Linked DNA regions of Homo sapiens. The protein of the gene in region 1 purifies or fractionates together with the protein of each later gene. This does not show direct contact. Each region holds a gene or a part of one and is shown in the gene's direction. Other genes may lie near its edges.

What was found.
Region 2: the proteins of AAMDC (region 1) and MANSC1 purify together in Homo sapiens (co-immunoprecipitation; one large-scale study listed by IntAct). This does not show direct contact.

What each region holds. Positions count from the first base shown.
Region 1 is NC_000011.10:77,841,396-77,845,220, forward strand, and holds part of AAMDC (mth938 domain-containing protein), read left to right. Parts: intron 1-1,083; coding exon of another isoform or gene 1,084-1,101; coding exon 1,102-1,233; intron 1,234-3,825. UniProt on the Homo sapiens protein: May play a role in preadipocyte differentiation and adipogenesis.
Region 2 is NC_000012.12:12,343,529-12,347,353, reverse strand, and holds part of MANSC1 (MANSC domain-containing protein 1 isoform 1 precursor), read left to right. Parts: intron 1-3,825.

The sequences.
Region 1 (3,825 bases):
CAGTTTCCCAAGATTCTCCTTGGTGTGTATATAGCTTAGTGTTCAGCCAAACATTAATTAAACATTTGGCTCAAACACCTTGAGGCAGTAAGACTTTCTCTCTCTACTGATGGAACACTGTGTGTACAGGGGAGTGCGTTCAAAGTCCAGCTGTTGTATGTCTTCACTGGCTTTTACATTCTGCAAGGCCCTCTTGAACCTTCTTGCTTATCCACTGTGTATGTGCTGAGGATCCATTAGCCCAGAATGTTTGGGTGTCTTGGGTCTATCTTCCAAATCTTTGATGCATATCCTTGCAGCCTCTGGTCCACTTGGGATATGTAGAGAGCTTATAAAGCCCCCTGTGGCTGTGTCATCCCTGGGAAATTCCTGTTAAATCCCACCTAGTTTGCCAATCCATAGCTTGCCTCAAATAAAAGGCAACATAAGGCAAGCAGAGCCACCTTCTATCCATGTTTGCTTGCCACTGAGATCACCTTTTTAAACTGATAATGGCTCCAACTCAAGTAAGCCTCCTTTGGCCATGGCGGCAAGGCTGTTCATTTTCATGTTCTGCCCCAACCTACTTGAACTTCACTTACAACAGAACTGGAGTGGTGGAATGGGGGTTGTTCCAGGCAAGAACAACAAAAAGAAATTGTCCTTATCTGAAATTCAGCGATCTTCATGAATAAGCATTTCTCTGATTGTGGTATATGCCTTTAATTTTATTTCTAGAGTGACAAATTTTTGGTTTTGACAGTTTTTTTCTAGCTTTATAGTTTCTTCTTGGGGAGAGAATATGTCAACCTCACTCCATCATGCTGAAGTAAATCTTCATCTCTTAATTTTATCTCTCAAAAATATCCTAAGGATTCCCTCTGGAGCCTGATAAGTAATTGCAGTATCTGGTTTCTATGGTTGGATGATTCAGGATTCCAGGAATAATAGTTACTTTTTAGACCTCTAAAGAAGAAGTAACAACCACGTAAATGAAAAGATGCTTCTTAAATCATGGAGAATCAGGGCTTAGTATCACTGTATTTTCAAACTGTTTCAGCCTTACTTTATAACTGATTTAGTATATTTTTCTTTTAATTTCAGACTTCAGTGAAGTTCCTTATGACTTCCCCTGAAATTGCTTCCTTATCATGGGGGCAAATGAAAGTAAAAGGCTCTAATACAACCTATAAGGACTGCAAAGTATGGCCAGGGGGTAGTCGGACTTGGGATTGGAGAGAAACAGGAACTGAGGTAAGATATTAGTCTTTGGTTGATACTACATGAGGCTGACCAAGTGATTTCCAACTTCCTAAGCTGCAATGACTAAGTGAAAAACTATTTCTCTTGTGTCTTTTTGAGATATAATTCATATACCATTAAATTCACCCTTTTAAAGTATGCAATTCAATGGACTTCTTACATTCAATGCCCCTGTAGTGACATTATAGTGACTTACATTCATAAACTTGTACAACAGTTACCACTGTTAGTTCCAGAATATATTTATCACCTCAGAAAGGAACCACATAACCACTACCAGTCAGTGCCCATTTACTACCACTCCTAGCCCCTAGAAATGATTAATCTACTTTCTGTTGTTATAGATATGCCTATTCTGGATGTTTTCTATAAATTACATCATTCAGATATCTTAGGTGTGTTCCTAGGAGTGGATTTCTGGGTTATATAGTGTTTAACCTTTTGAGGTACTGCCAGACTATCTTCCAAGGCACCTGCACCATTTTACATCTCCACTAGGAATATAGGAAGGTTCCAGTTTTTCCACATCCTCCTCAACACATTGTTCTTTTCATTGTTTTGTTTTTATTAGAACCATCTTATTAGGTGTGAAGTGTTGTTCTCATTGCGGTTTTTATTTGCATTTCCCTGCATTTCCTCAAGTATTCTCAGTGTGCCATTCCCAAGGTAGAGCCTCCTTTCCATGAGTGTAAGTTGGGCAAAACAAGGGAGCCTCTACCTTTTGACCCCACTCACCTGGGATGTAGCCTCAACAACAGAAAGATGGGGGCAGGATGAGAGGCACTAAAGTCCTGCTCCTCCTGGGAAGGAAGCCTTCCAGCTAGATGCTGAGGGGAGAAAGAGTCTTGTGTTCTTGGCTATGGCAATCTGGAGAGTAGTCTCTGCCTCACGATGGGGATGGGGCAGGAAGGCATTTATCTTGACGCCTCCACTGTACATGTGCACAGATTCTTACCTGTCTTACCAAATATCTCAATGAGTTCTGGCTTCTATAAAAAAAATTGTCATAGACTGAGTGCCTTAAATAATAAATATTTATTTCTCACAGTTCTGGAGACTGAAAGTGTGAGATTAGGATGCCAGCATGGTTCTGGTCCTTGTATTAATTCATTTTCATTAGTTCATTTTCATGCTGCCGATAAAGACATAACTGAGACTGGGGAGAAAAAGAGGTTTAATGGACTTACAGTTCCACATGGCTGGGGAGGCCTCACAATCATGGCAGAAGGCAAGGAGGAGCAAGTCACGTCTTACATGGATGGTGGCAGGCAAAGAGAGCTTGTGCAGAGAAACTCTCGTTTTTAAAACCATCAGATCTCATGAGACTCATTCACTATCACGAGAGCAGCACAGGAAAGACCCACCCCCATAATTCAATCACCTCCCACCGAGTTCCTCTCACAATATGCAGGAATTGTGGGAGTTAAAAATCTAAGATGAGATTTGGGTGGGGACACAGCCAAACTGTATCAGCCCTCTTCTAGTTTGCAGACAGCCAACTTCTCTTTGTATCCTTACATAGTGGAAAGAGAGGTAGCTAGCTTTTGGGCTTCTTATAAGGGCACTAATCTCATTCATGAGGGCTCTACCCTTAGGACCCAGTTACCTCCTACAGGCCCCACCTCTAAATAACATCACATTGGGATTAGAGTTTCAATATATACATTTTTAAAGGACACACATATTAAGTCCATTGCAGCAAATTTTTTTTTACAGTTTTTTCTTTCTTTCTTTGTTTTTTTTTGGAGACAGTCTCCCTCTGTCGTCCAGGCTAGAGTGCAGTGGTGAGATCATGGCGCACTGTAGTCTACACCACCTGGGTGAAAGGGATCTTCCTCCCTCAGCCTCCTGAGTAGCAAGGACCACAGGCATGCAATCACACCTGGCTTATTTTTTTTAGTTTTTATAGAGATGAGGTCTCACTACATTGCCCAGGCTGGTCTTGAACTCCTGACCCCAAGAAATCCTCCCACCTTGGCCTCCCAAAATGCTGAGATTACAGGCATGAGCCATCATGCCCAGCCAGATTTTGTTGAATACACGTTTATTCATTGGGTATTTGCTCTTAGGACCATTTCCAGAGGCTTTAGGGATTTTGTTTTGTTGTTTTGTTGAGTTCTTGGTTTGGGTTTTTCTTTGTCGTTATTATTAATAATTTTTCACATAGGAGTGGGTCAGTGGAGCGCCTCATGATGTAATGATGGAAGTAGATCCTTCATTTTTGAAGAATAGTTTGTTGGATATAGATTTCTTTGATCAATCGTCTTTTTCTTTCAGCACTTTCAATATGCCATCCCACCACCTTTTGGCTTCATTGGTTTCTAATGATAAATCAACCATTAGCATTATTAGATCTCCCTTGGACTTGTTGAGTTGCTTCTCTCTAACTGCTTTCAAAACACATCACAGTAATTTAACTATGATATGTCTAGGTATGGATATCTTTGAGTTTGTCCTACTTGGAATTTATTGAGCTTCATGAAGATGTAGATTATTGTTTTTTTAATCAAATTTGGGGAAGTTTAGAGCCATTATTTCTTCAAGTATTCTTTCTACTCCTATCTCCCTTTTCTTGTGACTCTC
Region 2 (3,825 bases), on another chromosome or scaffold:
TCATCGGCGCACGAACCCTGTTGTGAACTGCACATGTGAGGGATCTAGGCTGCACACTCCTTATGAGAATCTAATGCCTGATGATCTGTCACTGTCTCCCATCACCCCCAGATGGTACTGTCTAGTTGCAGGAAGACAAGCTCAGGGCTCCCACTGATTCTACATTATGTTGAGTTGTATAATTATGTCGTTATATATTATAATGTAATAATAGAAATAAAGTGCACAATAAATACAATGCACTTGAATCATCCTGAACCATACCCCCACAACGCCGTCCATGGAAAAATTGTCTTCCATGAAACTGGTCCCTGGTGCGAGAAAGGCTATGGACTGCTGCTTTATCAGATGTGTGTTTCACAAATATTTCCTCCAAAAAAAAAAAAACCACCTCAAATATTTCCTCCAAGTCTGTGGTTTATCTTTTCATTCTCTTTAACGGTATCTTTTGTAGAGCAGAAGTTTTTAAATTTAATGAAGTCCAACATCAAATTTTTCTTTCATGGAGTGTGCTTTTGGTATTGTATTTAAAAACTCATCACCTAATCTAAGGTCACAAGGATTTTCTTCTGTTATTTTCTAGAAATTTTATGGTTTTATATTTTACATTTAGGTCTGTGATCCATTTAGAGCTAAATTTTGTGAAAGGTGTAAAGTATGTGGCTAGATTTATTTATTTATTCATTTTTGCAAATGGATATCCAGTTGTTCCAGTACCATTTTTGGAAAAGACTGTCCTTTCTCCATTGAATCCCCTTTGCTCCTTTGTCAAAGATCAGTTGACTCTCTTTGTGAGGGTCTATTTCTGGGTTTACTATTCCATTCCATTGATCTGTTTGTCTATTCTTTTTCTAATACCATACTTTTTTGATTATTGTAGCTTTACGGTAAGTGTTGAAGTCAGGTAGTATCAGTCTTCCAACTTTGTTCTTTAGTATTCTGGACTGTTCTTGGTCTTTTCTGCATTTCCATGTAAATTTTAAAATCAGTTGGTTGATATCCAAAAAATAACTTTGGGCTTTTGATTAAGACTGTATTTAATCTGTAGCTCAAGTTGGGAAGCACTGATACCTTTTTTTTTTTGAGACGGAGTCTCGCTCTGTCGCCCAGGCTGCAGTGCAGTGGCGCAATCTCGGCTTGCTGCAAGCTCCGCCTGGGGTTCATGCCATTCTCCTGCCTCAGCCTCCCGAGTAGCTGGGACTACAGGCGGCCGCCACCACGCCCAGCTAACTTTTTGTATTTTTAGTAGAGACGGGGTTTCACCGTGTTAGCCAGGATGGTTGTGATCTCCTGACCTCATGATCTGCCTGCCTCGGCCTCCCAAAGTGCTGGGATTACAGGCTTGAGCCATGGCGCCTGGCCAGGAAGCACTGATATGTTAACAAAATAAAGTCTTCCTATCCATGAACATGTTATATCTCTCTATTTATTAGCTCCTCTTTGATTTCTTTCACCAGGATTTTGTAGGGACATTCTAAAATCTATTTTGGTAATTATATTTCACTATAACTGGCTTCCTTTGGAATCCTACATATTCCATTTTATGCATTTTTAAATATGTCTCACAAAAGAGATCCTGAGCTTCCTCAGACTATCAAAGGGGTTAATAAACAAAGGTTAAAGAAGTAGTAATTCTGCTCTAAGCTATCATTCAGCAAACAATTTGTATTCAACAAAATGTTTAATGAAATGTTAAAAGGAAATGTGGAGGTTGATAGGTGAGGATAATTTCTTGTATTGTCTTGCCAGTTTAACATTTATTTTTCCTAAAAGAACCAGCATCTCAATAGAGTTGGCATTATACATAGTGTGACTTTTGTATTTTTAAGGCTGTCAAAAAGAAAACCTGCCCCTAAACTTTCCTTTAACTGAGGCAGCGTATTCCTCCTGCTGACTGGCTAATTTCTAGAATTAGATTATTAGAGTTTTCTAACTCTGATTTGATACTTCTTAAGGAGAAGCAGCAATAGGAAAGACTATCTCAGTTTCTTCATTATAAAATGAGGAAAATAATAGCTTTTTTTTTTTTTTTTGAGACGGAGTTTTGCTCTTGTCACCCAGGCTGGAGTGCAGTGGTGCAATCGTGGCTTGCTGCAACCTCCACTTCCCGGGTTCAAGTGATTCTCCTGCCTCAACCTCCCGAGTAGCTGGGATTACAGCTGCCCGCCATCACACCCAACTAATTTTTGTATTTTTAATAGAGATGGGGTTTCACCACATTGGCCAGGCTGGTGTCGAACTCCTGACCTCAGGTGATCCGCCCACGTGACTTGACCTCCCAAAGTGCTGGGATTACAGGCATGAGCCACCGCACCCGGCCAATAATAGCTTTTTTGCAAGGTTGTTGTATTAGTCAGGGTTCTCTAGAAGGACAGAACTAGTGTAATATATATATATATATATATATATATATATATATATATATATATATATATATGGGAGTTTATTAAGTATTAACTCACATGATCACAAGGCCCCACAATAGGCCATCTGCAGGCTGAGGAGCAAGGAGTTTCAAAACTGAAGAACTTGGAGTCTGATGTTTGAAGGCAGGAAGCATCCAGCTCAAGAGAAAGATATAGGCTGGGGCTGGGCGTGGTGGCTCACACCTGTAATCCCAGCACTTTGGGAGGCCGAGGCAGGCGGATCATGGTCAGGAGATCGAGATCATCCTGGCCAACACAGTGAAACCCCGTCTCTACTAAAAATACAAAAAACCAGCCGGGCGTGGTGGCATGCGTCTGTAGTCCCAGCTACTCGGAAGGCTGAGGCAGGGGAATCACTCGAACCCAAGAGGTGGAGGTTACAGTGAGCCGAGATTGTGCCACTGCACTCCAGCCTGGCGACAGCAATACTCTGTCTCAAAAAAAAAAAAAAAGATATAGGCTGGGAGGCCAGGCCAGTCTCTCTTTTTCGCATTTTCTGCCTGCTTATATTCTAACTGCACTGGCAGCAGATTTGGTTGTGCCCACCCAGATTCAGGGTGGGTCTGCCTTTCCCAGCCCACTGACTCAAATGTTAATCTCCTTTGGCAACATGCTCACAGACACACCCGGAATCAATACTTTGTATCCTTTAATCAAATCAAGTTGACACTCAGTATTAGCCATTACAGTTGGTATAAAGATTAAAGATGGTAATAAATTAAAGAGAATAACAATTCAAAAGAGTGGTAAATTCCTTAGCACAATGTCTACCATCTAGTATATTGTCACCTATTTTTACTTTTTAAGTTTTTTTTGAGACATGGTCTCGCTTTGTCACCCAGGCTGGAGTGCAGTGGTGTAATCACGGCTCACTGCAGCCTCAACTTCCTGGGCTCCAGCGATCCTCCCACCTCAGCCTCCCAAGTCGCTGGGACCACAGGCATGCGCCACCACACCCAGCTAATTTTTTGTATTTTTAGTAGAGACAGGGTTTCACCATGTTGCCCAGGCTGGTTTTGAACTCCTGAGCTCAAGCAATCCACCCACCTCAGCCTTCCAAAGTGCTGAGATTACAGGCATGAGCTACCACGCCTAGCCCCTAGTAGATGATTTTAAAATGCTGATTGTTATTACTGAGAAAGGAAATATGCTCAAACCTATTACTACTGCTTCATCAGTGACTAGAAATGTGTGCCCTCTCCGCTCTGAGTTAGAAGAGGGAAGGATTGTAGAATTCCGAGGCAGGCCTACTGTTTATACCTGTTCCTTCATAAGCATTGTCAGCTTTTAAGCATTGGTGAGGTAGTATGTTTGTTTATGCTTATTAGTTCTTTGCCAAATGTTTAATGAAAAGTTGTCTTAAATTTACTAAAAGTGAAACAAAAAATACGTGTATCTT